6 separate regions of the Homo sapiens genome follow, and all the other regions are reported to be linked to region 3. The links are microRNA targets in miRTarBase. Many come from high-throughput screens and were not tested one by one. Region 3 holds a microRNA gene; each other region holds the end of a gene's coding sequence.
What was found. The annotated mature microRNA hsa-miR-4722-3p reads ACCUGCCAGCACCUCCCUGCAG and lies in region 3 at 1,517-1,538, shown strand. An mRNA with a match to its seed (bases 2 to 7 or 8) in the 3' UTR can be bound and repressed. Matches are read on the target gene's strand: a 7mer-m8 pairs with bases 2 to 8, a 7mer-A1 pairs with bases 2 to 7 and ends in A, and an 8mer does both.

Region 1: the mRNA of TAS2R5 is a reported target of hsa-miR-4722-3p. The part of its 3' UTR that is shown has no 7-base or 8-base seed match.
Region 2: miRTarBase lists WIPF2 as a target of hsa-miR-4722-3p. Seed matches in the 3' UTR shown: 7mer-m8 at 3,896-3,902 and 7mer-A1 at 2,136-2,142.
Region 4: the mRNA of PDCD4 is a reported target of hsa-miR-4722-3p. Seed matches in the 3' UTR shown: 7mer-A1 at 2,238-2,244.
Region 5: the mRNA of SLC4A4 is a reported target of hsa-miR-4722-3p. The part of its 3' UTR that is shown has no 7-base or 8-base seed match.
Region 6: miRTarBase lists WDR33 as a target of hsa-miR-4722-3p. Seed matches in the 3' UTR shown: 7mer-A1 at 4,567-4,573.

Annotation. Positions count from the first base shown.
Region 1 is chr7:141,790,780-141,795,880 of GRCh38, reverse strand. It overlaps TAS2R5 (taste 2 receptor member 5), which reads right to left. Exons shown (of 1, transcript NM_018980.3): 1 at 4,514-5,101. The coding sequence ends at 4,620. Among named protein-coding and RNA genes, the nearest start is that of TAS2R5, 3.1 kb to the right of the region's middle.
Region 2 is chr17:40,277,413-40,282,513 of GRCh38, reverse strand. WIPF2 (WAS/WASL interacting protein family member 2) reads right to left here. Exons shown (of 8, transcript NM_133264.5): 8 at 1-4,329. The coding sequence ends at 4,289. Among named protein-coding and RNA genes, the nearest start is that of CDC6, 7.9 kb to the left of the region's middle. RefSeq lists enhancers at 1-531, 532-1,468.
Region 3 is chr16:88,712,816-88,717,815 of GRCh38, reverse strand. It overlaps MIR4722 (microRNA 4722), which reads left to right and starts at 1,479; the gene lies at 1,479-1,538. It overlaps CTU2 (cytosolic thiouridylase subunit 2), which reads right to left. Exons shown (of 15, transcript NM_001012759.3): 7 at 4,911-5,000; 8 at 4,369-4,504; 9 at 4,038-4,169; 10 at 3,589-3,680; 11 at 3,330-3,433; 12 at 3,079-3,229; 13 at 2,890-2,956; 14 at 2,710-2,768; 15 at 2,420-2,634. The coding sequence ends at 2,565. PIEZO1 (piezo type mechanosensitive ion channel component 1 (Er blood group)) reads left to right here. Exons shown (of 51, transcript NM_001142864.4): 45 at 605-793; 46 at 918-1,010; 47 at 1,085-1,257; 48 at 1,333-1,455; 49 at 1,539-1,618; 50 at 1,697-1,883; 51 at 1,962-2,478. The coding sequence ends at 2,211.
Region 4 is chr10:110,897,463-110,902,563 of GRCh38, forward strand. It overlaps PDCD4 (programmed cell death 4), which reads left to right. Exons shown (of 12, transcript NM_014456.5): 12 at 566-2,544. The coding sequence ends at 626. It overlaps BBIP1 (BBSome interacting protein 1), which reads right to left. Exons shown (of 4, transcript NM_001195305.3): 3 at 4,076-4,150; 4 at 1,268-3,064. The coding sequence ends at 2,898. MIR4680 (microRNA 4680) reads left to right here and starts at 628; the gene lies at 628-693.
Region 5 is chr4:71,566,526-71,571,565 of GRCh38, reverse strand. SLC4A4 (solute carrier family 4 member 4) reads right to left here. Exons shown (of 26, transcript NM_001098484.3): 25 at 4,483-4,562; 26 at 1-3,778. The coding sequence ends at 4,519. Among named protein-coding and RNA genes, the nearest start is that of GC, 220 kb to the left of the region's middle.
Region 6 is chr2:127,702,298-127,707,398 of GRCh38, reverse strand. WDR33 (WD repeat domain 33) reads left to right here. Exons shown (of 22, transcript NM_018383.5): 22 at 847-5,101. The coding sequence ends at 1,076. It overlaps SFT2D3 (SFT2 domain containing 3), which reads right to left. Exons shown (of 1, transcript NM_032740.4): 1 at 2,157-5,101. Among named protein-coding and RNA genes, the nearest start is that of SFT2D3, 3.4 kb to the right of the region's middle.

The DNA of each region.
Region 1 (5,101 bases), not on the chromosome of region 3:
AATTCTTGGTCATTAATTCTTCAAATATTTCATTCCTTGTGCTTATTTTTTCCATCTCCTTCTGGGGCTCCAATCACACCTATGAGTGTCCTTTTATTTCTGTGTGCCATATTGCTTTGCTTTTAAATTTCCCATCACTTTATTACTTTGCCATATCTCCTGCGAGAGTTCTAGAGCTGGCCTTCCAGTGCATCAATTCCACACCAGGAGCTGTACCCATTCTGCTGCTTAATTCAATGGTGGAATAATTTATTTCACCTAATTTAAAAGTGCATATTTCAGAAGCCAAAGGGAAACCAGGCTTTTCCTCACCCCAGGGCCTGTCAGCTAGGTTAGGCCTGTGATCTAGAATCAGCCAGCCAAAAATCCCACCCAGGATGGCTCGAAGAGACACAGTCTCAGAGGCAGTGGCAGTGTCAAGAACACAATGTTAACAGCTGAACAGGAGAGGTGGTGCCAGCATCAGTCCCTGTAGTGTGACTTGATTGTGTTCTTGTTTATTTAACCCCTCTTGGTTCCCATTCTGAGGTTGACTCTCCAGCCTTCTCCCTGGTTCTATAATCTAGCCAATTTCCTTTTGATAAGTGTACTTTCTCCTGAAGTCATATGAAGTTGTTTATAACTGATACCACAGGTGACAGGAGTTGGGATATGGGAGAAGTGCAGGACTGGTGAAGCACTAATTTCTTCCTCCTACATAATCGGGACTCTGTGGATACTGTCATAAGGCATGGTTCAAAAAAGCAGTGTAGAAAATATATTACTTACAATTGTAAAAGTAATGACTGTTAGAACAACAAAATAAAACTAATCAATTTAGGAGAGGAAAATGGATTAGGGGCAAAATGAGATAATCCCCAAACCTTGATGAATGGAACTCAAAGGCTACAGTTTAAAGCTGATAAAACAAGTAAGAGAGCCAAAATCTTACCATTCAGAGTCGTAAAAAATAACCACTAAAAGAACTAACACAAGTGATAAGATACCATTATATCCAGGCAGTGGGACTAATAATAGAAGGTGGGAGGGAAAAACGTTGCTGTTCATTTTCTACCTTTCTGTCCTGTTCAAATCGTTTTTAGCCATGCTCACATATCACATTTTTAACATTTCACGTCTCCTCTCGGCTACACCACCACAGAGCATATCACATAATTAAATGTAAGGCCATTAACATCTACACACACACACACACACACACACACACGCACACATGGATCCAGCTGCAACTCTAAGAATGCAAATTATAAAAGATTCAATTACATAGGAATCAATTCAAGAGTATATATTTGCCTTCCCATTTGTTTTCTTTGCTAAAACACAAAGCAGTCTCATACGCATCATAAGGTAAATTGTGTACAGAAAAAGAAGGAAATCAAATCCCAAAAGGTGATGTGGAAAATGCAATAATTTTTCCTGCTTTATTGAGGAATGATTGACAAAAATGGTATATATCTACAGTATGCAACATGATGTTTTGACATATGTATACACTGTGAAATGAGTACCACAATCAAGTTAATATATCCACCACCTCACAATTATCTTTGTTGTTGTTGTTAGTGAAAACATTTAACATCTACTCTCTTCACAAATTTCAAGTATATAATACGGTTCTATTAACTATAGTCACTATGCTGTACATTAGCTCTCCAGAGCTTATTCATTCTTCCTAACAGACACCAAACATCTCCCTATTTCCCCCACGTCCCAGGCCCTGGCAACCACCATCCTACTCTGCTTCTGTGAGTTTGGCTTTTTGAAATTCCACACATCTGTGAGATCTTACAGTATTTGTCTTTCTGTATGTGGCTTATTTCAGTTAGCATAATGGTCCTCCTGGTTCATCCACATTTTTTCAAATGACAAGATTTCCTTCTTTTTTAAAGCTGAATAATATTCCATTGTGTGTGTGTATACATATATACACATACATATGTATACTACATTTTTTTATCTGTTCAAATGTTCAAATGTGATATTTGAGCATGGCTAAAAACAATTTGAACAGTACAGAAAAGTAGAAAATGAAACAGATACACATACATGCATACACTACATTTTCCTTATCTGTTCATGTGTTGATGGACACTTAGGTTGATTCCATACCTTGTCACTAAGAAAAGCAGATCATAAACTTTGATCTGTTGTGATTTTGGATCTTAGCACCCAGGCATCCCATCAATACCAAATTTGAAAGATTAGTTGCTTATTGCATGTGTGTAAAAATACTCATAAACTTGAGGGAAGTTCCACAGGCTAATCCTAGTTTGAAGTCTTACAAGTATGAACAATGAGATACTTAGGATTTACTGGAAAGAGCACAAGACTCGGAGTCAAAAAATTTGGGTCTGCTCCATCTGCATTATTTACAAGTTCATGATCCTGGGCAAACCATCACTCCAGCCTGAGTTTTGTCACCTGTGAATTGGGGATAAAATTGGTTACTGCATAGAGTTGCTATTAAAATCAAATGAGATAATGGACTATATATGAGATTGTCTGGTAAAATGTAAAGCCCAATACAAATGTTAAATACTATTGTCACTATTACAACAATTGGTCACAAAGGACATCTGTAAAAAAAATAGAAATGGTATAATGAAAATTCATCCTACTAACAAAAATATAACCAAGCAGAAGCACCTTTCTATTTAAAAAGAATGAATATGATCCTTCCCAGGACATAAAATATGGTACTTGACCTCACACAACTCACAGTGACAGTGGAACCAATCTCCCCCTGTGTGATGACTAATATCCACATGTGCCTAGCATGTACCTCAATTCTCAGATTCAGGTAAGAAAAAGATATGTTTGAGAGAATAGATTAATGAAAGTAGATTAGTGTGATCCATAGGAAGTGAAAAAAAAATATTTAAGAATGCCAAGTGTTGTCCTTTGGATTTCAGATCCCCCTGGAACTGAAACAAAGAAGGCTAGAAAGAAGGAAGAGAATAAGTTGTGTAGAAGGGTCTGTAGAAAGAGGCATGGGGTTCCAAGGAGGGAAGGACATTAGGAAAGTAGCATGTTGTAAAGGAAAGAGCCCTGCACCAGGAGTCAAGAAACAGCTCTAGTCCCAGCACTGCCACAGGCTCTCTATGAAACCCAGGGCAGGCCACTGCCCCTCTCTGGGCATCAGTTTCTCTACCTACAATACAAAGGAGGCATTGTAAAACCAGTTAGCACAGCTATTCAGTCATTTACAAAATATTTATTAAGCGTTTATTATGCAATAGGCAGTGTTCTAGTCACAGAGACGTGGGAGAAAATAAAAACAGACACAGTTCCTACTGCCATGGATCTGGCATTCTAAATGATCTCCCTCCAACTCAAAGACCTGGCACACTAGAACTCTGACTGTAGGCTGTGGTGAGGCCACAGTAGACAGGCAAAATGGCTAAATGACTGAAGAGCAGACAGCGTGACCTCTTCAAAGGCAGTCTATTTTTTTTAAGCAGAATCAAGTGCCCCTCATTCTCATATTGCCCCACTTCAGTTCCTGGGCCTTGGAGCTTAATACAGATCATGGCATCCAACTGACTTTTATTCTGCTTTTTTTTTTTTTTTTGAGACGGCATCTCGCTCTGTTGCCCAGGCTGGAGTGCAGTGGCATGGTCTCGGCTCACTGCCATCTCCACCTCCTGGGTTCATGCCATTCTCCCGCCTCAGCCTCCCGAGTAGCTGGGACTACAGGTGCCCGCCAACACACCAGGCTAATTTTTTGTATTTTTAGTAGAGATGGGGTTTAATCATGTTAGCCAGGATGGTCTTGATCTCTTTTTTTTTTTTTTTTTGAGACGGAGTCCCGCTCTGTCGCCCAGGCCGGACTGCGGACTGCAGTGGCGCAATCTCGGCTCACTGCAAGCTCCGCTTCCCGGGTTCACGCCATTCTCCTGCCTCAGCCTCCCGAGTAGCTGGGACTACAGGCGCCCGCCACCGCGCCCGGCTAATTTGGTCTTGATCTCTTGACCTCGTGATCCGCCCGCCTCAGCCTCCCAAAGCGCTGGGATTACAGGCGTGAGCCTGATTTTTATTCTGAAAGCCAAGGCTAGGGCTCAAAGAAACTTCCAGAAATATAAAGATGTTTTGTTTTGTTTTTCAGTTAGATAATTAGATACATTACAGCAGAGAAATGGGGAAATTATTTGATACTTTTTAAAAAGCATATCTAAAATGACTAACATTAATGTATAGGTAAAATTTCATAAAAATTAATGATCACTATAATTGTTCCTAATCTCTGTTTTCTATACTAGGAAAAACACAATTTATATATGAATTTTTGCTATATGTAGACAGAATTGTTCCTAATCTCTGCTTTTTATAATAGGAAAAACACGATTTATATATGAATTATTTGCTATATGTAGAGAGAATATAATACCTCTTTTACCAAACATGAAGCCCTAGCCTTGATTTCTGTGGTACATTAAAAAAATATACTTTGCATTGCCAAAAGAGACATAGTATTGGGTTTTGATCCGTATTTTCTGTTGCTCATTCATTACATTGGTGTAAAAGAAGGAAAATCTTAAAAGACATGGAAAGCAGCTCCCTTATAGAGAGCTATCAAAAGAGCGTCCCAAGAGTGTCCTGACCACACTTTTCTTCCCAGATCATGGGCCCCAGCATCTCCGAGCACACACTGTCTTCCACAGGATCTTCTGACAAGTCTGCTTCACCCTAGGAATCCCCATGATCAATATGAGAGAATGAAGAGAAGGATAGGCTGCCATGAGTGTCTCCCAGATGAAGACACTGGTGAGATCAGGAGGATAAGTCTTGGAGGTGATGGAGAAGGGGCTGGCCATGATATAAACCAGGTGAAGTAAGAGGAAGCAGCCCAAGGACTTCAGCGCAGTGATGTGAGCCTTGGCCCGGACATCCCTCCTACCAGCTGAATGGACCTTCATCTTCTTGTGGTGTGTATACAAAGAGACAATCAGCATCCCAGAGGAAACAAGAAACACCACTAAAGGCAAATAACTTCCTGAATTGAGCTGAAATGCATACAGGTACTGCCAGCTTTCAAAGGGATACCGAATGCTGCTGTTTCCTTGGGGAGGATGATAGAATGTTAAGCCAATTTGGACTGTAA
Region 2 (5,101 bases), not on the chromosome of region 3:
TTTTCTAAAAGAAATTGATCCACATGCAGACAGATGAACACACACACGCACACGCGTGCGCACGCACACGTGTCATTCTAGTCATTTATTCAGTGTTGACTGTGACTTCCATGGAGGGCACCATGAGAAAGGAAAAGATTAGACATGTGAAAAGAAGGCTAGGCCCCATCTTGCCACCAGTGGAATGAGATTTAAGACCACTAGAGAAGGAACCCACTAAATTGCCAGAAACAAGAGTAGAAAGAAACAGCAGTTATCAAGGAAGATTTTAATTGCTTCAAAGAGGGAAAGGAAGAAAGCACAGAAATCTAATGCAAGTAAAGGCACAATGAATGTGGAGTTGAATGGAACCAAACCCTTCCTTCGGTTAAAGTTATCCTTTTTTTTTTTTTTTTTTTTTTTGCGTGTGGTTTTGATGGTGGTTGTAGTTTTGTTTCGTTTTGTTTTTAAGAGATGAGTCTTGAAGGCAGAGTTGTAATGGCCCTCCTCTCTCCCCTCCCATTCCCGAAATTAGGGTAGCTTAACAGAAAGCCACCTTGACCACATGGCCAGGGACTGAGATTCAATGGGGAAAGAAAGACTGTAGCTGGAATGTGAAGAATTTGATTTGCAGTTGATTGCAGGTTGGGTTTCCGGAAGGGCAGACAGCTCAATGTAGTGCCATCATAGGGCCTCAGATGCCCACACTCCACCCCCAGAGCTTCACAAAATGGAAGGACCCTGGAGTCACCCTTCTCCCCCACCCCCATAAGCACTCAGCCTACAGATTATTTCAAGTGATCAGGAGAATTAAAACACACCCCAACCCTGAGTTGCTCTTTAGCAAGTCTATTTACAATTTTTTTCTCACCTCTCCCTGGAGGTAAATCTGGGTTTCAAGTTGGGAAGCCATGGGGTGAGGGAGTTCCCCAGTGCAATGGCCGATGACGAGTATCCTTGCCACTGCCAGTTAACAGGGCTGGGATGAGCTCCTGTAGACAGCAGCCTCACATCCATCAGCTAGGGTAGCCCTAGGTTCTCACTCTGTTGGCCTACGCTGTGAAAATGATGGGGCTCTGCAGTGGAGCAAATCCCCATGACAGAGAAAATCACACCTGGAATATCAAAGTGCTTTGGTCCAGGTTCAGTGACCAGAGAAGAGGAAGAGGGGCATCTAGCTCATTTAAAAACCTGGAGGTTTGCCCTGCTTCCCAGACAGGGCAGTAAGAAACAACTATAACGTTTTTCCCATTAGGGAAAAACATCACAAAACCAAACCCATAGAAGGGCTTTTAACACAGCTTCCTGATGCTTAGCTGGGCAATGTCTCTTCCTTCTGTGGGGGGACAAGGGAGTTAATGGGACTGGGCAACAGCCTCAACATGAGACCACCCAATCTTCCACGAAAGAGACGACATTCCCACAAGCAGATAAAAAGAGCAGTTTAAAAGGTGAGGAGTTTTAGTGCTCTTGTAGCCAGCCCACCTTAAACCTAAATTAGAAGCTTTTTACAACATACAAAATAGACTGATAACTATGCAGATCACATTCCCATCTTCAATAGTAAATATACATAGTAATAAATCTATTATTAACAGTGGGACCAAATAACATATAAGGCAGACATTTAAACAGGTGTTGTATCATCAACATGCTCTAAAAAAAACTCATCTGACTAGATCTAGACCCAGGCCTTTTTGCATGAGGCCAAGACAACAAGTATACAATCAATACCCATGTGACACAGTCCAAGTGCTGGGGAATATGAGGGGGCAGTGGGCCATGGGGAGGAAGATATCAGCCCCAGTGAAAAGCTGGGGTTTGGCTTTACTCGTGATATTTTGATGCTCTATGTCTGAGTAAAGGAGGAAAAAAAAAAAAACACTTTGATAACGTACAAAAGGCATCGACTCCCATTTCAAAAATAAATGGGAAGACTTCACAGTCAAAGTTCAGTCACTTGTCAGTATCTGCCCTGGAACTCTGATGCAGTATCAACTCTTGTACTCTCTCCTTTTCCCTCCACTAGCATGCCCTCTCTCAGTTGTTTGGTTTGTTTGTTTTCTGAGATGGAGTTTCACTCTGTCACCCGGGCTGGAGCGCAGTGGCGCCATCTCCACTCACTGCAACCTCCACCTCCTGGATTCAAGCGATTCTCCTGCCTCAGCCTCCCCAGTAGCTGGGACTACAGGCACATGCCACCACGCCCAGATAATTTTTGTGTTTTTAGTGGAGACGGGGTTTCACCATGTTGGACAGGCTGGTCTCGAACTTCTGACCTCAGGTGATCCGCCCGCCTCGGCCTCCCAAATTGCTGAGATTACAGGCATAAGCCACAGCGCCCGGCAGTTCTGTTTGCTTCAGGATGCTAGGGATACTTCTGGGAGATAACTGCTAACAGATTAGAAAGAAGAATGATACATAAAAAATGATTAGGAAAAGTTTGGTGACAGACCTAATCATGGTCTGTCCCAGAGTTAATATGGTCCAGGGGATGGCAAAGGACAGCAGACCCCATACACATTACCCCCGTTGAGCCCTCCCTCACCTAGCACTGGGGAGACTTGGGTTTCACCTGGCACCATGCACAGATCCCTAGCCTGTGATCCAATCAACTGGAAAGGTCTCTAAGACAGTTTAAGCCTGTGATGTGTGTGATTAAATTTTTTTTTTTTTTTTTTTTTTGAGACGGAGTCTGGCTCTGTCGCCCAGGCTGGAGTGCAGTGGCGCAATCTCGTGATTAAATTTTTAAGCTAATTTTCCCCATCCATTTCAAAGAGTAGCCATGGTCTCCTTGCTCTCATGCCACGCTCTGAGCACCCTCTACACATAGCAACAGTTGTAGAAAACCAAAGCATCTGGTGTGTGGAGCCCAAGAGCCCCATCCTGCTGTCGGAAAAAAAGAAGTCCTCATCCAATCAGCTTCCTACCTAGACTGGGGACCTCCATTTTCTCTGTGCTCTTTAGGACCCGGAAGACAAAGAAACAACCTATGGCTGGCTGCCAAGGAAGATCTACTGAACTGAGGCAAATCTCAACAAAGTCTTTGTGCTTCCTGGCATAGAAGAGTATCTGAATATCTTCATAAGCCTCTGCTCACTTCTTCACCCTTCTGTACTCTGCTGTGTTAAACCGTGCAGTCCTGGGAAGGCAAGGGTGGTAGAGAAAGGAACAGGAAGAGTCTGCTCAGTCAGGTGGGCTGTGAACTTCAGTACAGGCAGGACTTAAAAGTCCTTTGCAGCCCCACAAAGCCAGCTCCTTCCATGAGGGGCTTCAACCTGCCCTTCTTTGTTATCCTGGAGCACCTTCCAGGGGCTGAAGGACAGAAAGAGCCACTGACAACTTCAGGGCCAGTCAGAAAAGACTGAGGCAGACACAAGATTGAGGTTAAGGCCCAGGCCCACGCCCTATCTTCCTATCTCCCACCAGAGGTTTTTGGGGTTTGTGAATCAGGAATGAATGATGCCCTCCACAAAAAGTGACTTTTCTTTCAAGGGCATGGGCGGTAAGGGGGAGGAAAAACATCCCTCAGCCTAGCACCCTGAAGCAGTGGGGTGAGGGGTCCCAGAGGGTTCAAATGGCTCCTGTTCCCTTTGCTGCAGAGAACTGACTAGTTCTAAAATGGTCTTCAGTTTATTTCACCCTTTCTTTTTATTAAATGTTAAGTTCAACTGATTAGTATTTAGTGTTTATATCCAATTTATCCCTGGGGTGGTGGGGTGGGGGGGCAGCAGGTGAGAACAAAAACAAAATACCCCCAAAAATAAAGCAGACCCAATTCCTTGCCCTTTCTCCAAATATGACCTTTAAAACAGATCACTTCTTGGCAAACTCCTTTCTTGCTTCACTAAAAATGCTCCCCTCCCACCCATAAGTCCTGGTCATGCCAGCCTCCTAAATGATGAAATATAATATACCTGCCAAGCTTCCCCCACAGTGGACAGGAGAAGGAAGGAGTACCATTCTCCACCCTGCCCTAACAGTGAGTTAATTCATCACAACAAGGCACCTTTCCCCAAGAGGAAGGCAGAAGACACGGAAACTTGTTCCTCATGTGGCTAGCAGGGCTTGCTGGAGGAAGGATGGATGCAGGGTTTGAGATCCTACTGTCAATATAGAGTCTGATCACCAAATCCAGAGATGAGATGCATAGATGGAGGTGAGCTGGGAGGACATTTGGAGTCTAGGGCTTGATTGCATTGGAGAAACATGTTAGGAGCTCTCATGCAGGTTTCAGGGGAATGGAAGGGACCATCTGAGAAGAAGAGAAGGTCCATCCTTTTCCTGAGGAACGGGACCAAGCCAGGCTTCACCTGAGAATGGGTGGCAGAGGTGGGGCTCCACGGGCAGCTGAAAAAAAACAAAATAAAGACCACACACATACAGGTCACCCACCAGAATCTGAACAACCCACACATTCCTAAAATGAGAGACAGGCTCTTTAAGCTAACCTTTAAAATCTGGGGACTACGTGTTATTATTGTTTTGCCTAAGAAAATGAAGATGAGTGGCCAGGCAAGGTGGCTCACGCCTGTAATCCCAGCACTTTGGGAGGCCGAGGCGGGCGGATCACCTGAGGTCAGGAGTTTCAGACCAGCCTGGCCAACCAGGCAAAACCCAGTCTCTACTAAAATTACAAAAATAATCCGGCATGGTGGCACACGCCTATAATCCTAGATACTTGGGAGGCTTAAGCAGGAGAATCACTTGAACCTGGGAGGCAGAGGTTTGGGGTGAGCCGAGATGGCACCACTGCACTCCAGCCTGGGTGACGATAGGGAGACCCTATCTCAAAAAAAAAAAAAAAAAAAGGACAACGAAGATGATGAGAAGCAATTTTTTTTCTTTTTTTTTGAGACGGAGTCTCCCTCTGTCACCCAGGCTGGAGTACAGTAGCGTGATCTTGGCTCACTGCAACCTCCGCCTCCTGGGTTTAAACAGTTCTCCTGCCTCAGCCTCCCGAGTAGCTGGGACTACAGGTGTGTGCCACCACGCCCAGCTAATCTTTTGTATTTTTAGTAGAGACGGGGTTTCACCGTGTTAGCTAGGATGGTCTTGATCTCCCGACCTCATGATCCGCCCACCTCAGCCTCCCAAAATGCTGGGATTATAGGCATAAGCC
Region 3 (5,000 bases):
TCTGCAGATACATTGGCTAGAAATGACTGAATTGGAAGAATTCTCTGTATTCTCTGGTTGCTAGAACCTTATCAATTAAAATTTGCAGAAAATTTCTCCAATTCTATGGACTGTCTCTTAAATTTTCTTGGTGTCTTTGGAAGCACAAAGTATTTATTTTGGTAATATCTGGTTTACTTTGTTTCCTTCGCCAAATCCAGGTTCATGAAGATTTGCCCGTTTTCTTCTAAAAGTTCTATAGTTTTAGCTCTGAAGTTTCGCTCTTTGATCCACTTTGAGGTAAATTTTGGCACATGGTATGAGGCAGGAGTTGCGTTTCATTCTCCTGCCTGGGGCGGTGCCTGCACCGTGTTGAAAAAGGTTGTCCGTTCCCACTGAACGGTCACAGCTCCCTTGTCTAAGATCAACGACCCCTGAACATGAGGGTTCCAACTGGACTCTTAGTTCTACTCCACTGGCCTGTGTCTGCCCACCATTACTACCGCTGTGCCATACTGAGGTCAGGCTGGGGCTTTTCTGGGCTGCTGGGTGAGCTGGAGAATGCGGTTGTGTGACCCGCAGGAAGGGCAGAGCTGAGCGTATGACCTGTGTCGTTCCCCTCCAGAAATACCCGCAGCCCAAAGGGCAGAAGAAGAAGAAGATCGTCAAGTACGGCATGGGTGGCCTCATCATCCTCTTCCTCATCGCCATCATCTGGTTCCCACTGCTCTTCATGTCGCTGGTGCGCTCCGTGGTTGGGGTTGTCAACCAGCCCATCGATGTCACCGTCACCCTGAAGCTGGGCGGCTATGAGGTGAGCATGTGTGGGTCCGCCTGTCCATTCCCATCCCCTGGGGGTTCTGGCCAAGGTGGTGCACCACCCCCAGCCGCTCCTCCACGCTCATCTTCGTGGCCCCGTGTCCCCGTGCCTGCCCCAGCCGCTGTTCACCATGAGCGCCCAGCAGCCGTCCATCATCCCCTTCACGGCCCAGGCCTATGAGGAGCTGTCCCGGCAGTTTGACCCCCAGCCGGTAAGTGGCCTCTGCCCTGTGAAAGCTGGTGTGGGGAGGCGGCTGCAGTCACTGAGGGTGTCACTTGTACCCAGCTGGCCATGCAGTTCATCAGCCAGTACAGCCCTGAGGACATCGTCACGGCGCAGATTGAGGGCAGCTCCGGGGCGCTGTGGCGCATCAGTCCCCCCAGCCGTGCCCAGATGAAGCGGGAGCTCTACAACGGCACGGCCGACATCACCCTGCGCTTCACCTGGAACTTCCAGAGGTTCGTCCTGGACTTGGGGCAGTGCCTGGGTGGGTGGACCCACTACAGTGGGTCACGCTGTGTTCCCACCCCCAGGGACCTGGCGAAGGGAGGCACTGTGGAGTATGCCAACGAGAAGCACATGCTGGCCCTGGCCCCCAACAGCACTGCACGGCGGCAGCTGGCCAGCCTGCTCGAGGGCACCTCGGACCAGTCTGTGTGAGTGAAGGGCCCGGGTGGTGGGCAGGAGGGCTGTGCCAGGTTGGCTGGGCCAGGCCTGACCTGCCAGCACCTCCCTGCAGGGTCATCCCTAATCTCTTCCCCAAGTACATCCGTGCCCCCAACGGGCCCGAAGCCAACCCTGTGAAGCAGCTGCAGCCCAGTGAGTATGGGCGTGGGGGTTGGGGGAGGCTAGAGAGGGGTGACCTGCGGCCTCAACGATCTTCTCCCTCCATCCCAGATGAGGAGGCCGACTACCTCGGCGTGCGTATCCAGCTGCGGAGGGAGCAGGGTGCGGGGGCCACCGGCTTCCTCGAATGGTGGGTCATCGAGCTGCAGGAGTGCCGGACCGACTGCAACCTGCTGCCCATGGTCATTTTCAGTGACAAGGTCAGCCCACCGAGCCTCGGCTTCCTGGCTGGCTACGGGTGAGTGAGTGGCTGGGGGGGCACCCCGCAGCTCGGGGGGCTCCGGGCGGCCCCAGGACTCACCAGCTTCCCCCGCAGCATCATGGGGCTGTACGTGTCCATCGTGCTGGTCATCGGCAAGTTCGTGCGCGGATTCTTCAGCGAGATCTCGCACTCCATTATGTTCGAGGAGCTGCCGTGCGTGGACCGCATCCTCAAGCTCTGCCAGGACATCTTCCTGGTGCGGGAGACTCGGGAGCTGGAGCTGGAGGAGGAGTTGTACGCCAAGCTCATCTTCCTCTACCGCTCACCGGAGACCATGATCAAGTGGACTCGTGAGAAGGAGTAGGAGCTGCTGCTGGCGCCCGAGAGGGAAGGAGCCGGCCTGCTGGGCAGCGTGGCCACAAGGGGCGGCACTCCTCAGGCCGGGGGAGCCACTGCCCCGTCCAAGGCCGCCAGCTGTGATGCATCCTCCCGGCCTGCCTGAGCCCTGATGCTGCTGTCAGAGAAGGACACTGCGTCCCCACGGCCTGCGTGGCGCTGCCGTCCCCCACGTGTACTGTAGAGTTTTTTTTTTAATTAAAAAATGTTTTATTTATACAAATGGACAATCAGAGGCCAGTCCCCCGTCCTTGCCTTCCGGCTCCAGTGTGGTGTACCAGGTGGCCACTGCCTGCTGTCCCGGCAAGCACGTCCTCACGCTCAGCTCTGGCCCGCCTCGTCGTCACTGTCCTCAATCAGACAGTCCCGGATCTCCTGCAAGCCCCAGGCCCTAGAGAGAAAGCTGCAGTGGGCACCAGCCCCGAGGCCCCTTACCCACGCGCCACGGCAGTGTGGGCCCCAGTACCTCTGTGTGCGGAGCTGGGCCTCAGCCAGGATGTACGGCGGCAGGGGGTCCAGTGAGGGCTGCAACAGAGGCCGGTGTCGAGGGGCCAAGAAACCTGCCAGCACCCCCTCAAGCCACCCACGAGGTGACGGCCTTCCCGCGTCCCCAAGCCCGGCCCAGGACAGGTGGGCACGTACTCACCAAGTCCTTCATGTTCACGCGGCAGCTGTAGCACAGCTGCTCCTCAATGCAGGCTTGGGGGTCCTCCCTGCGGGAGCAGAGCTGGCTGTGTGCCCACCTTGGCACCTCAATGCCGTGCAGTGTGGGGTAAGGACAGGTCCCCCTCCCGCCCCATGCAGCTGGCCATGGGTGGCAGGGACAGGGACTCACCTCCTGCAGGCCCCCTGGCCACAGCGCTGGGCCCAGCCCACCCCTGGAGAACAGCAGGGCCCCGGGGGTGTCCGGGTCTCAGTCAGGGGGATGGGTGACTGCATCTGGGAGAGACGCGAGGAGGTCTGAGCCCCAAAAGCCGTGGCACTGTCTGCAAGCAGAGAGGGGGTGACGGAGCCTGGGGCTGCTGAGCCCCCACACCCACTCCCTGGCTCCCTCCCCGCATCACCCCAAGAGCATGAAACACAGACCAGCGGCGTCGACGTCCAGGGCACACATGCAGAGGAGGCAGCGGGGGCCGGAGTCGCCAGCAGCAGGGCCATCCCGGGGGCCCTTCACCAGCTTCTCACTTGTCCTGTGGCCGGATTGTGGGAGGAGCAGGTGAATCACACGGGCTGGGGCTCCACCCTAAGCCCTGGCCTGAGCACGAGTGGTGAGCTCACCACCCGCACACACCCGCGCACAGCACACACCCGCGCACCCCCCGCACACACCCACACACACCCACACCTGTACACAGTGCTGACAGTGGAGGGGAACTGGGTCTGCAGCCTGAGGATGAAGGCCTCCATCAGCCGGTGGATGCTGGCCTTTTCAGGGGCCTAGGGACAATCAGATTGGAGGCTATGGGAAAGCCCAGAGGCCAGCCCCAGGCTGGGGCAGAGTCCCCAGGACAGGTGCCGTGGGTTCCACGCTGCTGGCCCACATGGGTCTGGCTTTGCTGCGACTGCTCAAGGCAGCCAGAGAACCCGCTTCAGCAGTGCACCCACTGTGGGGTCCTCCTGTCACCCCCACACCCTCACGGCACAGGGTGGGCTCAGAGGATGCAGCACTGCTGGGGGCCACAGCAGGAGTCACTGAAGGTGTGCTGGTGACCTGAGCCTGTGAGAGGCTGCCCAGCCCACATGGCCCACCCCGGTGTCAATGGTGAGAGAGGTTGCCCAGCCCACAAGGCCCACCTTGGTGTCGACGGCTGGTGTGAAGACAGAAGGAACGGAGAACAGGCGGTTGTAGAAAGCGACCTCCTTCAGGGTGTGGTCCCGCATGGGCCGCACCACCACCACGTCCCCGTGCCGCTCATCCGAGAAGCCCTGCGGGAGGCAGGGGCTGTGTGGTCCAGGTCAAGGCCCGAATGTGCTTGCCCCTCCTCCCCTGCCAGGTAGGGGAGGTCACAGACCCCACCACCATCCGAGGCCGCAGGACTGATACGCGAGAGGCTACTCTCCAGTAAAGGTGGCCGAAGGGGTGAAGGTGAGGATGGGCCTCCTGAACACCCAGGCCCCTGCCTACCGTATCCCAGGCCAGGAAGGCCCCTCGACCCAGCGCCAGGTTGGTCATGAGCTTGATAGCCAAGCGTGTGCAGCTGTCCCCAGTCATGACCTTGGAGTAGCCGTGGGCTCGGGCCATGTGGAGGATCAGGTGGGTCCTAAAGCACAGAGCGTCTCAGGGGCCTGGGGGGTGCAGGACCCGGGGAAGGGGGGCTCTCGGGTATGAGTGGGGGTCAGGGCCCGGGGAAGGGGGGCTCTCAGGGGTATGAGTGGGGGTCAGGGCCCGGGGAAGGGGGGCTCTCAGGTATGAGTGGGGGTCAGGGCCCGGGGAAGGGGGGCTCTCAGGGGCATGAGTGGGGGTCAGGGCCCGGGGAAGGGGGCTCTCGGGCATGAGTGGGGGTCAGGGCCCGGGGAAGGGGGGCTCTCAGGGGCATGAGTGGGGGTCAGGGCCCGGGGAAGGGGGGCTCTCAGGGGCATGAGTGGGGGTCAGGGCCCGGGGAAGGGGGCTCTCAGGGGCATGAGTGGGGGTCAGGGCCCGGGGAAGGGGGGCTCTCGGGGCCTCACCGCAGGGTCTGCAGAAGCTCCTCCTTGGCAGTCAGTGTCCTCACTGAGCAGAACAGTTGGGAAAGAGCCTCAGTCTGGGCAGGGGCAGGC
Region 4 (5,101 bases), not on the chromosome of region 3:
TAGGTAAGAGTGTGGTTACATTATAGAGCAGGGCTTCTTGAGTTTGACAAAGCACGAATCCCAAAATGGGGCATAGGCTGTAATTCTGATTTTTTTCCACATTCAAGTTATGGCTTTTCTACAGTTGATAAAACATTTTTTTTTAAATTGCCAAACATGGATATTTTGATAGGTTGCACAGCTCCAGTTTGCATAATTCTGAATTATGTTAGTGTTTCCTATTTGGCTTACTGTTAAGCTTACAAATAATAATTAGAAATTAATTAGAAATAATTTTAAATTTCTAAATAAAATGTTTTAGTTTGAGTCAACTTTTTTTAATGTGACTCTGTTTGGATAGTGAACTTATTAAAACAAAAACTCAGATTTGATATTGATGTTTTATGCTAAGATATATAGTAGGGAGTCTTTTCCAAAGGAATTAGAGGCATGCTTTTTTTTTTTAATGGAAAACCCTTTAAAAGCTAACACGTAACGAAAAAATACCAAGTTTTTAATTTTTTTATATATTGACTATAGTCAGAATTTGTATCTGTTTTCATGTCTTTTTTTTTCTTCATTACAGGGGCAGAAAGCGTTTTGTAAGCGAAGGAGATGGAGGTCGTCTTAAACCAGAGAGCTACTGAATATAAGAACTCTTGCAGTCTTAGATGTTATAAAAATATATATCTGAATTGTAAGAGTTGTTAGCACAAGTTTTTTTTTTTTTTTTTTTTAAGCACTTGTTTTGGGTACAAGGCATTTCTGACATTTTATAAACCTACATTTAAGGGGAATTTTTAAAGGAAATGTTTTTTCTTTTTTTTTTGTTTTTCGAGGGGGCAAGGAGGGACAGAAAAGTAACCTCTTCTTAAGTGGAATATTCTAATAAGCTACCTTTTGTAAGTGCCATGTTTATTATCTAATCATTCCAAGTTTTGCATTGATGTCTGACTGCCACTCCTTTCTTTCAAGGACAGTGTTTTTTGTAGTAAAATCACTGGTTTATACAAAGCTTTATTTAGGGGGTAAAGTTAAGCTGCTAAAACCCCATGTTGGCTGCTGCTGTTGAGATACTGTGCTTTGGGAGTAAAAAAAGAAAGTTATTTCTTTGTCTTAAAGAATTTTTAAAAAATTAGTCATGAGACTTATTCATCTTTCCAGGGAACATACTGATTGGTCTTAAAAGACTAGACAGTTAAGTAAAAGGTGGCTGGAACATCTATTTTTCTACAAAACTGGAAAAATGAACCTGGTTCTAGAAGAATGTACACCAAAATAAAACATGTGAAGCAGTATTGATTCTTTATTGGGAGTACATTTTTTTAGGTCTCTTAAACTTTAATTTCACACAGTAAATTTTGAATCTCATAAGGAAGCATATTTGAACCTAGTCAATTTAATCTTAGTGTTCCCTTGAAAACTTTTTTTCCCTACAAAATTTTAAGTGAAAAATACAATAGTAAATTAAGATTACACTGGGGAAAAAAATGCAGGTATCACTTTACTCCATTGTTATCTGACCTAGAGCTTAATTAAGTTTTAGAAATATGTAATACCTTCCATCATTCCATCATCCTTAAATTCTGTTACCAAATAATGGCTAATGTTACAAAAAGTTATACTCCAGAGACCCAAAGCTTGACATTTACCTAATGTATGAGAAAATATTACCAATTAACAATAAAGAATGATCATATTTTTAACCTCTTTTACATAGCCTAATAACTCAGCAAGGCCTCAACGTCTGTGCTAATTTAAACTGCCAAATATTGACTGCAGCAAACAAGAATTATATTCAGAATTTATGAGGGTACTGTTAGGAGTATACTGCTTACAGGTTTAGATATAGTCTGTTAGAATTAAAACCAAGTTTAGTGTTCATATTTACCTCATGGGCTTTATCAAGCCCATATTACCTCAGCTTATATATAGTTACCATTTTTAGGTTTTTAATTGTTTGACACTTGGATGATAAATGCAGTCATTTTATTCTCAAGTGCTTAAAATTAATGTAATTAAAAGCTTAGCTGACTACAGAATAGGTGAGGGTTTCTTAAAAATGAGATTTAAGGGCTGGGCACGGTGGCTCATGCCTGTAATCCCAGCACTTTGGGAGGCCGAGGTGGGCGGATCACTTGAGGTTGGGAGTTCATGACCAGCTTGACCAACATGAAGAAACCCTGTCTCTATTAAAAATACAAAAGTAGCCAGGCATGGTGGCGCATGCGTGTAATCCCAGCTACTTGGGAGGCTGAGGCAGGAGAATTGCTTGAACCTGGGAGGCAGAGGTTGCAGTGAGTCGAGATGGTGCCATTGCTCTCGTTTGGGCAACAAGAGTGAAACTCTTGTCTCAAAAAAAAAAAAAAATGAGGTTTAAGACAGTTTTGTCATTACTGGTGGGATCTGGTCACACAAGATAGCATTAAACGTGACATGGCACATAAAATTGGTTAAAAAATTTTGTTTTTTAATTACGTAATGTAAAAGCCCAACAAACACTTTATGCAAGATTGGAATGTATCTTCAAATTCAGATTTAATAAACATGTAAAGATCCTCTGTATATAAAAGTTGTATTTAATCCCTTGTGCCCAAGAATGCTATAAAAGATCCCAAGAATGTTATCTATAAAAGATAGCAATAGGAATGGTGAACAAATAATTTAATTTGCAATTCTAAAAACATGACTTAAACCCCATAAAACTTGGTTCATAGTTTAACTGTTTATGTTCAATACAAACCAGAGTGTTTACATTCACAATACAAATTTCATCAATCTTGGATATTTTTGTATTTCTATGAATACTATCAATTTTATTGATAACACATACTACTTTCAGCACACAGAAGCATATTTTCTAGTTATTGTTAAATAGTAGATAAGGCAGGTTGTTCCCTAAAGTGCTCAGTTATCATTCAGTGGGTTATTTGCCGTTGATCCTTTTCTGCCATTTCTTGTTGGCGAATTGTATTCTGTGCTGCTTGATGCATTTTCTCTAGTTTTTCCAGAGTCAGAGATTTTAAGGGTAAAAGTTTGGGTTTACACAGCACCATTGTCATTATATCTTCCACAAACAGTGGCCCTAAGTTTAACAAGAAATAAGAATTAATTCAAGAAAGATAACCCAGTTGTTTGTAGTTGGATTTGCAGCTAGAATGAAGGTCTAAAAAATTAATCTCTTGTCACTGAAAAACTCTTGTACCTAAATTGAGTTTTGCTCTGGAACCAGAAAGATCATTGTCATTCTATAAGCGCATTTCTTACTAGTAGGGTGCTTCTGAGGAAGACAAGTTTTGAGCGTTCTACCCAAGAATCTATGCTACCATAAGACACAACTTTTTGTGTCAGAAGTTTAATCTTAAAATAAGATTTGGCAGAATATATATATACATAGTGCAAAAAAATATAGCAAAATATGATATTTAACGTAAATATTCAAATGACTGAAGGTTTAAACCTTCGGCTTTTCTTACTGTTGCTTCAGGTTTCTCTTTCTCCACTTTCAGACCTTATTTAACATAGTAAATTCCATTATTTCTTTCACTGAAGTTTCATATTGAGTAGGGCATGGTAGCTCTTACCTGTTATCCCAGCACTTTGGGATGCCAAAGGGGTTGGATTGTTTGTTTGAGCCCAGGGGTTTGAGACCAGCCTAGGCAACACATTGAGATCCCTTCTCTACAAAAATAAGAACAAATTAGCCAGGCATGGTAGCACATGCCTGTAGTACTAGCAAATCAGTAGGCTAGGGCAGGAGCCCAGTAGTTCAAGGCTGCGGTGAGCTACGGTTGTGCCAGCTGTACCCAAGCCTGGGTGGCAGAGTGACAACCTGTCTCTTAAAAAAAATTCATATTGTAATTAGGAATTTTAGGAATTAGCTAATTAATAGGCAATTTTAGGTATAAGAAACAATGTTTCATTTGTTATCCTTTTACTGGATGTCATGAAAAAGCATATAGTAAAAGACAGTAAATGAGATAATACGGAACACAATAGCTGCAGATGTTTAGCTATTAAGCCTGCTATGTGACACTGCCTATGACTTCTTTAGTCCTGTAATAATCAATGACCTCAATATTTGTGATGTACATACCTTGCTTTGGAAGAACTTCCCGGAACATTGACTTCACTTCTGCCATATCTGAGTTGTTGGATATAGTGTTTTTTCCTTCAATGAGAAATCAGTATTATTCAAGAATACATTCCCAAAGCAGACTGCCTGAGACATTTCCATTGTAGTTTAAGAAGTAAAATCCAAATTCCTATAGAAAGTGAACTACCCTAACCTTGTATAATATTGCCATTAATTTCCTGTGACCTTGGGATAGTTTGTATAAGCATTTAGATCTTGTCAACTTCCATTAGTCAGTTGTGGTGTTAACTACAAGGCTAGGTGTTGTAATTTTTTTTCTCTCATAGTGAAAACTTGGTAGAGCTTCAGTTTTTAAGGCAAAGATGATTAATATCATCTGAGGAAAAGGTATTTGTGTGTAGCCAGCGTGGTTCGTTGATAGCATCTCCCCTGAATGGTGGGTGACAAAAAACATGACCACCATTTGATGGGGGTGGTGAGGCAGGTAGTTAGGAAAAGTAGGAACTGGCAGGCTAACATTTCCTAAGATTCCTACTTGTCTCAACGGCCAACAGCTGGTTTCTACTTTGTGTCTAACAAAAAGAATCCTATGGATGACTGACTACACAGCTGCAATTGGTAACGAAGTAATACAATAGGTGAAATTGGCTCTTGCAGAACAGAAATAGAGTTTCAGTTTACTATTTTCCTCTAATACCGAGATTCTATATGCGAAAGGACCAACAATATTTAACTATTTGTTATGAACATCCCAGCATATATGCCATTTTTGCCAGTGACATTTGCTCCAAGTATTACAGTCAAGATTCTGCTATGCTGTGTGTTCAAGGTGTTCTGGACTAAGCTGTAGAATGATCCCTTTCCAAACACAGATGCTTTTCTAGACGGTCCCACCCACTCAGTGATTCACCTTGCTGATGCAACCTTACCATGCATCTTTCACAACATCACCCCCACAGATTTATTATTTATAAAGTGGTGAATCTGGCTTGGTGCCTGCCTTTACCAACCACTGCAAATTAATTA
Region 5 (5,040 bases), not on the chromosome of region 3:
ACAATGAAATGAGCCAGGAAATTGGACATATCTAAATCTCTGGCCAAAACACAACTTGACTGGTTGGCGTATTACACAACTTTTTTAAAATTTCAGGCTGCAATGAAGCTCAATGAAATCATCTGAAAACTCATGGCCTTTCAGATAGTGAGGTGCTACAAAATATCACTTGATTGTACCCAGCCATTTGGTGCCACTGGGCTTCATGCTCATGCTGTGAAGAGCAAATGTGAAATATCATGAAATATAAATCAGAAAATCTCAGGTTCCTGCACCAAAATCATTAAGTAGTATGAAAAGGATTGAAGAAGGCTTTGTCCCATCCCTGAACAATGTCAACCTCTGTAATACAACTCAAATTATTTCATTTTGTTTTTAAAATATAGTCAGCAGTCAATACATTTCAAGTACTTTAACACAGTTAAAAAAGGAACCAAAAAACTCGGAAGACAATCATTCTCTATTAAACACCAGTATACAGTTGATAAAAGATTTACTCTGTATGGGTTGGTGCATGAGCATAAAATACACGCAAACTGAATTACAGACAGCAGACAACTGTTTTTCCTCCTCTCTTGGAGGTGGAAGGCTGAGGAGAGAGGTTTTTGTTTTCCTACTTCTTAAGTCAGTTAAGTCCTCTCCCCAGCCCCACTCCTCAACCTTGATTGGGAGAAGAGGCAGGGACATTACTGCCCCTGGCACACAAAACAATTAGAATTCCAAGTATTCATTTCACACAGTAGAGAAGATGACTTTTATCAAGGAAAACAGTGCGTCCAAGATACTTTTCTCCCAAACACAAAACCAGAGGCATTTTTGCTCTTTTGATAAGGCAGACACTTGACTTAGTCATCTCTTTTCTTCCAACAGTGTTTCTGCAACCACAGCCAGGACTTTCTGGTTAACAACTCTGAGCGTACTTTGTCTTTATCTTTTGAATCCTTTATCTCCGGAAGTCACATCATGGAGAAGGGAGAAGCACTTATAAAAAAATTTACTGTTGTAATTTGTGTCCAGTTTGCATAGAAACAAAACCACCACCAAATCTGGTTCATTCTTAGTCAATGGGTAAATTCAGTTAAAATACCGATAATTTGGTGTCACTAGGTAAACCTCAGGTTTTGCTTGTTAGTTTGGTTAACTACTTCTGTTCCTTTGAAAGTAATGACATTTTTAAAAACTTCCCTGGGTTCCCAGAATATTGAAAGGATTTGATATTAACTGTCTGTTTAGCAAATGTAAGGTACTATTCTGTGTTCATGTCATAAATATCAATATGGATCATAAACAGAAGTACACATAGGTTTTACCTCTACTCAGAGGCTGAAATGATGAGTTAAGTTGCTTCAGGAGTTCTTTGAAAGGTATAGAGAGGGGCATGAAACCACAGATACTTGATTCATGATCAGAAAAGAAAGTTTTATCTAGAGCTTTTATAAAACAAAAGTACCTTTAACTTAAGAAGATCACGGGTTAAGCTGAATTTACTATACATGGTTTTTAAACAATTTATTGATGCTTCCATGCATAAAGAAAAAAGGAAAGTCTTCTTATACCAGTTTATATTAGGGTAATAGAAAGCTAGATAATATAGACTCATCATTTTAAGGATAGCCCTAAATACAAATGTGAAGCCAGAATTTGGCAAGTGAGGTTTTAACACAATAACATATAATTCACCACTATTATTTTAATGAAAAAATTGGGGTCATTATTGACTAATTTGTATAAGTTAAAAGTTTTAGGAGTATCAGGTACTGTAAAAGTAACAGCTAACTCAGGATAATAAAATTTTTGTAATCAAAATTACAAGGAGACAGAATAATAACTTAATTAACATAACAATGAGTGGGAGTCAATAAGTGCATATTATCAAACCAAAAAATGTGGTTTCATTCTGCTTCTAGTATACCCCTCAACAACTGGTTATAGTTAGGATATATCACAGTTGTGGTTATATGAATCTGAAATTATAATTTTAACATTTAAAATGTTTTTTTAGTATACATTCACAATATGTAATGTATCATATTAAAAATATTACCTTTAAATACCACGTTAAATTTGGTTAATAAATGTCTAATTTTCAGTGTGGTACTTTGAAATATACATACATATAATATGTACACAAATATATTCTAAATGTCCCGCTTACAAAGAATAATTGCCTTTGCATCCTGAAAAAAATTGCATGAGAGTACTGTTACACTGTACTCTGCAGCTCTGCAATCCCATTACATTTTATAGATGTGTAAATGGGCTATTAATACTCCTATGAATTTTATATTGCATGTTAGAGCTATTATATCAATTATAATGACTGATACCTGGGAAATAAACTATATTTACCCTCATTTTCATATGGACAGACTTCTTGGACCCTTAATGGATTTTTTCATATGTGGTTTGGGTTTTATGAAAACTGGCATAAGAGATTCAATGACTTTGCCCTCTGCCTACCATCACTCTTTTGCCTTCTAACATTGCACATATATACACCAGCCATGGCACAGAGCACATACACAAACACACAAATATTTCAAAATGAGAAAATGTCTAACAATACTGCATAGGACATTGACGTGGTAATACAACCAGCATCTGTACCTAGATGCTACTATTATCAGAACATCGGTTATTCTCATGACATAGGAGTTTGTCTCTTCTCCCTCAATCTCCTTCATAGAACAGTTAAGTTTCTTTTAAAGAAAGGGAAAAATGGATGCTTAGAAACATGGTGTTTTTAATCTGATCTTGCCTTCTGGCTTACCCTAGAGATTGTGTATTTGTGTGTGTATGTATGTGTAAAAATCACATTATATACAATACAATTTTTACAGAAAGCCTGGCAGCTACAAATAAGAGGTAGAACTACTCAAAACTATGTTTCCTGCTGCAGGAAAAAATTCATTTTCTTTACAGTAATTAAAAAAAAGTTTTAAAAATTGACAAAAAATAAGTGGCAGGTTAGGCCCCATAATTTAAACAACAAAATCTAGGAAGAAAAATATTCTTCAATGTACTCAACAGATAAGTTCATTAAAGGGTTAAAAAAAGTTGCATAGGAAAAAAGGGACATTCCAGCACTTGCTACAATGATGGCAATGGTTTCTCTATAGGGAGTAAAGTACCTTCAGTTTTTTCTTCTTTTGATAACTCTAAGATTAGGATTTACAAGCAAGAGCAAGTTAAAATAGCAGCACTTTTTCCAGTCCTGGAGAGCTCTATAAGTGAGAAGGGACTCTGTCTGGAGGTCAAGGTTTGTTCTACCAGACAAAGACAAGCCAGTAAGCACAGCTCCAAAGCTAAAGTTTTAAGTTCCTTCAACATTTTCATAAAAGGTGTTACAAAATCCTTAATACTTCCATCCTCTGCTTAATAGAGGCAAAGGACAGGGTCTGTGCGTGTCTGTGTCTTGAGTGACAGAATTTGGTTATCAAAGGACACATCTGAAAGTTTAAGAACAAAAGGGGGATTCCTCAGATGCTGTTTTTAAGGAACGGTGCACTATTGTCTTGATTGTGTCTATGCAAGAGAGAAGCAGAGAGAGCGCTGTATTATTTGGCCTGTGACCAAAAACTGAGACGAAATAAAAGTTAAAAAATAAACAAACAGCCAAACAAAAACAAATGACATTAACAACAAATGTCAGTTTTAAGAAAGACAAACAGGTTACAATGTAGTTTCTGTTCCCTTGCTCCTCCAGAAATAATCATTGTCTTCAGGTTCAAGTTCTATTCTAATTTGAGGCACAACTTTTACTGGAGTTCTAGGAGGACTAGAGAAAAAGGAAAAAAAAAAGTAGTAAGTAAATCAGATTTCCTTCATCATCTGTCAAATGTTTATGCATTGTATAGAAGTCAAATGTGTCCTTCTTTGTTCTCTTTTAATATTTATATTCTCTTTGTGTATTAAAAACAAACATTTTAAATGGGATGAAGGTTACCAGCAGAGTCAAGAAATTCAAGTAAAAAAATTCATAAGATCTCATACCTAGATTAAATTAATAAAAACAACAAACACAAAAGGAAAAGAGGTACTACCAGGTGGGTAATGCTGTCAGAAATTAAAGGACAAAAAGACTGACATAATAAAAACATTCAGAGATTTCAGAAAATCAAGTAGAATCTGAAATCCCTAGAACTTCATTAAGAGGGAAAGAAACCACTGGAGAAGAACTGTCAGAAAGTGCCAGTTACCTCTTTAAATCAGGGACGATACTGAAATTAAAAGAGCTAATGTTGATCCTGGGTTGTAACTTAATGATACTGAAAGATTCCATTATTTGTAATAGTAACTAGGTCTCTTAGAATGCTTTCTACTAGTAAAAGCTGGAACAAGTTTTGGTCACTGGGTAATTTATTTAAGATAAATAATAGAGACGAAGGAGAACAAGAAGTTCTGTCAATAACCCACCATTAACTACATTTCTGTGGGGCAATTATCCCACAGAAAAACATAAAATACTGGGCTCTCCTTTACCTTGGCATACCGAGTGACTGAAGGAAAGGAATTTTATCAGCATGATGTGTGGCGTTCAAGGAATGTTGGTGATCTTTCTCCTGGAAAATAAAATTTTTTAAAAACATAAATGGTAGATCTTTGGTGAAGTATAAAACAAAAATCTTCACAAAATTGATGCATCTTCCATAACTGGTAAGAGTAAAAAAGACAAGTTTAGGCATTTCAATAAACAAGGTATTAAGCTAAGACTCTAGTGTGATGAAGACAAAATCACTTCATCTCTTTTACTTTAGGTTTTCTGGGATGGATCACTGTTGTCTTGTCAGTGAGAAGGATAAGAAGCAAATCATTTTTAGAGGGTGATAGCATTCTCTTAATGCCTAAGGCTTGCTTTTGGATTTCCTTCCATCTTCAGTATTCCTAGGTTTGCCTGCTGTTGTTCATAAGGAAAAAAAGATTTTTTTTTTTGAGGCACTTACTCATACTGCAACACTACTTCTATCAGTTTTGTTCTTTCATCATGGATTATAAAGATAAACATGACATTAGGAAACATTTCAGGCAAAATGCTCAAGT
Region 6 (5,101 bases), not on the chromosome of region 3:
AGATTCATATTCTATTACAAAATATGAGACAGCGGAGAGTTTGCAGTCATCTTCTGAGAGTGCATTATGGGAGATGTGACCAAATCCTATCATTTCCTGAGGAAAAAAATCTTACAAGATAGAATTTTTTTTCCTTTTCCTTTCTTTTTTTTCTTTTTTTTTTTTTTTTAAATATATTCTCAAGCTGCAACAGAATGAAAGAATTTTAATAGTACCTAAACATTTGTGCATACTAGTCTGAAGCAGGTTAAGCTGTGCCTCGGTGATAGAACCTGAAAGCCAGTGTTTTGTGGGGTTTTTGGGTTTTTGTGCTTTTCTTTTGTTTTTTCAAGAAATACTTTATTTTACTAATTATGAAAAGGAAGCCAAAAGTGCCACATGTCACGGGACAGTCCCAGTGAACGCTTGTCCTAGTTGGAGCACTTTTTATTAACATTAGCAGTGTGTACTTCCAAAGTTAAGTCAGTATATTCAAACCTTCCCTCAATATACCCTGGTGGCTGGGAGCAGGCAGATACACTTCCCATGGCCTGGGACATGGCCCAGTGTGGCCCGGGTCTCCCTGAAGGTGCTCCTTGCTCATCTCTTGGCTTCCTGTCGTCTGTCACACAGCCCTGGGGGCATGGATCTGGCTGATGCTGAGGCCCATGGCCATGAGCCAGGAAGGGGGAGGCAGGGTCAGGAAAGGGTAGAGGCACACCTCTCAGTACGCTGAATACCACTGCCAGTCTCCCTGGCACCCACCAGAACTGGTCCATTGTCATCAGAGAGTAAAGTTTGTACTGGGAGTTACTGACAAACAGTTGCTAATACAAAAAGTCCCATGTGAAATTTTCTTTGTTTCAGGCCGAGGGGGCCCAGGACCTGCTCAGAGAGTGCCCAAATCTGGGCGTTCCAGCTCCTTAGACGGAGAGCACCACGATGGATACCACAGAGATGAACCTTTTGGGGGCCCTCCAGGCAGTGGCACCCCTTCTCGAGGGGGCCGGAGTGGCAGTAACTGGGGTAGAGGGAGTAACATGAACTCTGGCCCGCCGAGGCGAGGAGCTTCACGGGGTGGTGGAAGGGGTCGGTAGAAGCTGGAACTGAGTACCCTGAGGCCTCTCTGGACAGTATGTAAGAACTTCTTGTGGACTCACCAAGAGAAACAAAAGGAAGCCTGCACCATTGTAGCCCTGAACTCTTTTCTGGGCACCTGAATCCCAGGAACCCTCAATGAGGTCTTCAAGATGAAGAGACTGCTGCCAGCTACCAGCCTGGCTGGCCCTGTCCTGTCCACCCTCATTGCCCCAACTCCCATGTTGTTTTGTGAAGATAAAAGCTGGGATCTTTTTCTTTTTTTTAAGTCTCACAAGACATGGGGCATCTCCACAAATTTAAGTTCCTGTCCATTTGGAAATTTGTTTCTATGTGTACAGTTTGTCAGAGAAAAACAAAGTTTTTGTATGAATACAGAATGTGATTTACGCAAGAATTGACAGAAAACTAGTTGTGAAGTGCTTGCCTTAAGGAAACCTTTGGTTTCCATCGCATCCCATCTGCCAAGGAATGCACGGTTGTTGCTGATGTTCATGAGCATATTAACCACTAGGTTATCTAAATTAATCTCAGCTGTGAACTTTGTGTTTTTCAACACATTCTGTCACACCATTTTTGTGACAGAAAAATACTTGAAAATTATTCTAATGTAGTTTGTAGTAGGTTCAAATTTTTATTCAGACATGCTCTGACAGATGGAAAATTGTACTCTGAAGAGAAAATGCAATCTTCTGGATGTCCAACGAGGGAGCTTCCCCTTGGAAGCATCTCCTAAGAATCACAGTTTAGGTTTGAATCGCCTTGTTATGATGAGGAGAGGAACTTGATGTTAGTCAGAAATAAAGTCACATGCCCTTTAGATAACTTGAAATCACACATGGAGTTGATAAGGAATGGACCAAAATAGGTCCTCAAACAATTTTGCAACACTTAATTAAGTTTTCCTCTCTTCCTCTTCCATACTATGTGGAAATACCAGTGTTACGGCAGGGCGTACTTCTAACTCACAGTAAGCCAGATAGATCTTGTCCATGGCAAATTCCTTGTTTAAAATAAACATACCATTTAGCCCAGTTTGGATTGGAAGCCAAAAATTCAGTTTGTTATATACCCCATGATACTTTCTATACTGACCTTTATTTTGGTTTTACATGGAAGCTTTTATTAAAAGGACTGTCCTATGGCCACCTTAACATTTCATTACATTGGCAGCTTCAGTTTTGGCATCAGTCAAATTTATTTGGCAAATTTAGTGGTGCTGGAAGTTTCTTTTTTTCTTTTCCTTTTTTGACAGAGTCTTGCTCTGTCACCCAGCCAGGAGTGCAGTGGTGCAATCACGGCTCACTTCAGCTTTGACCCTGCCTCAGCCTCCCTAGTAGCTAGGACTACAGGCATATGCCACCATGCCCAGCTAATTTTTTGTGTGTGTGTTTTTTGTAGAGATGGAGTTTCACCACTTTGTCTATGCTGGTTTCAAACTCCTGGGCTCAAGCGGTCCACCTGCTGTGGCCTCCCAAAGTGCTGGGATTGCAGATCTGAGCCACAGTACCTGGCCGCTGGTGCTGGAAGTTTCAATGGTTGCTTAGAAAAGGCATACTGATATAGTTTAACAGGATATGAAAATTTAACTGGTTCTCTATGAATGTAAAAAACAGCAAAAGCTAATTGATTTCTGTGGAGTGAGAAAATGTCAGCCATATACACTGCTTTTCAGTGTTAGAATCTAGAGACTATTTTTTTTTTAACTTTGAAATTACAGCTTATTTAATCAGCGCTCCACCATAAACATGCTATTAGGAGGCTCAAGATTGCTTTAGGTTATGGGTATTTCTTCACTCACCCCCAACTGGTATAGCTTAAAGAGAGAGAAACTGTAATCAAATTTCATGAAGCTAAAACCGGATCCAGAGACCAAACCCATATCAAGATTAGACTTTTTTTCCCTGAGATTCTAGTGGAAAAATTTTCATTATTTTGGGCTTTAACTTTAGAAACATAGTATCTCAGTAAGCAGATAACCAGATCACATTTAAAAATTTTCATTTTACCTTGAAGCTCTACTGGACTTGACAGATCACATTTTGAGAGTGAATTCATTTAAACAATAAACCTCTACATTATACTTATTAAATATATATGGCATTTAAAAACATCACTGTCAGCATACATACTAGATGTTGTGATTTGAAGCTTATAAAAAGTAGATTTTCAATGATGTTTGATTTGAGAAAAAATTTTTGAGACAAGGTCTCGCTGTTGCCTAGGCTGTGGTGCAGTGGTGTGATCACAGTTCACTGCAGCCTCAACCTCCTGGGCTCAAGTGATCTTCCCACCTCAGCCCCACCCCAAGTAGCTGGGATCACAGTTGTGTGCCACCATATCTGGCAAATTTTTTGAAGATTTTCTGTGGCGATGGGGTTTAACTGTGTTGCCCAGGCTGGTCTTGAACTCCTGGCCTCAAGTGATCCTCCCGCCTTGGCCTCCCAAAATGCTGGGATTACAGGTGTGAGCCACCAGCTGAGAAATGTTGAATTTTTAAGTTTTTATTTAAGAAATAAACATTGTAAAACATCATTATAAAACCCCCAACTATTGCAAGTTCTAGAGAAATTTAAAACTAGAACAGAAATTTAGGGGACTAGAAAGAGCAGCCAATGGCACAAGTCTTTACAATTAATTAAAAAAATAAATCATTCTGAAGATACTGCATTTGCTCTCTCACAAGCAGCCTCCTGAGGTAGGTAACCTTGTTTACTGATGGGGAACAAGGCAGTGTTCTTTACCAAATCTCAGGGCGGGTAGCCTGCAAGCCTACAGTGTGGATGTTGGCCACTTGTGTCACTTCTTGGGACGGGGCTTAGGGACCTGACTTACTTAGGAACATAAATTTTGGGGTTGGAGGAAGCAGCAGTGCTCTACTGCGGCACGACAGACACCCTGTTAAGGCAACACTGGGATCCAGCTCAGGAAAAGCATTACTTTCAAATTGTGCAAGCCAATGCACAGAAAAGTGGTCCTCAAACTTGGGGAACGTAGAATCACTTGGGGAGCTTTAAAAAGGTCCTGATGTCTGGGACCTACTTCCCAGGTTCTGACTGCATTGATCTGAGGTGTGGCTCTTCAAGTAACTGATGTGCAGTCAAGCGCGAGGACCACTGGCACACAATGTTTAAATTCTAAATATATTTTACTTCCTAGTGTATTGCTACTGACAAAACGTAGTTTTCTGGACTCATCAGAATGTTAGGCTCATACCTTCTGGCAATAAATTAAGGTAGTTAAAAGTAACTGCTGAACCTAAAATGAAGGCAGCAGCAATTAGATATAAAAAAATCTTAAGATCAGCCTGCAAATTGTAAACTAGTTTACAAAGCAGGCTATACAATGAGGAATAATTCGAGCTTGTAGAAATCCATGGTTTCCACCAGATACAGGTATTCCGGATCTAGAATTATCTTTCTATTTGCAGGATTTCCGAAGAGACCGTTAAGCATCTACGCGCCCCTTCCTGGATCCCATGCTTCTTGGGGCAGGAAATTTCTTTTGGTCCGTCGCTTTCGTCGTGAAATACACAACTAATTTTCCTTTCATGTTATAAGGCACCATATTTATGATTTTGTTAACTGAAGAAAAAACCCGAGATAAACCATCTTAAGTACTTTTAAAAGTCCAGTGGCTGAATTCGGTGTTTAATCTGATACCCTTCTGGATTCGCTGACACTGGAGAGAATAATTTCCAAGTCTTAGTATAGCCAAAACAAAAAACTACCGTCGCTAAGCTACATCTACCACTGGATTTTAAAATGACAAAACAGCCTGAGAAAAATCACAAGAGCAGCTAACTCGAAGAAAAATCCTTTTTCTTTACTCAGCCGAACCTAAGACCACAGTTACTTCGAAAGCAACTTCTAATAACCGTCTCACATCCTGTCACCAGTTCAATGACAAAATCTCAGTTTTCAGAGCGTGTGCCAAGTCCAGCACAAAAAGCTGACATCGAGGAGCTCCCAACGCTGCTGTCGCCTCCGCTGGCAGCAGCCGCTCCCGGATTAGACTCGCAGGC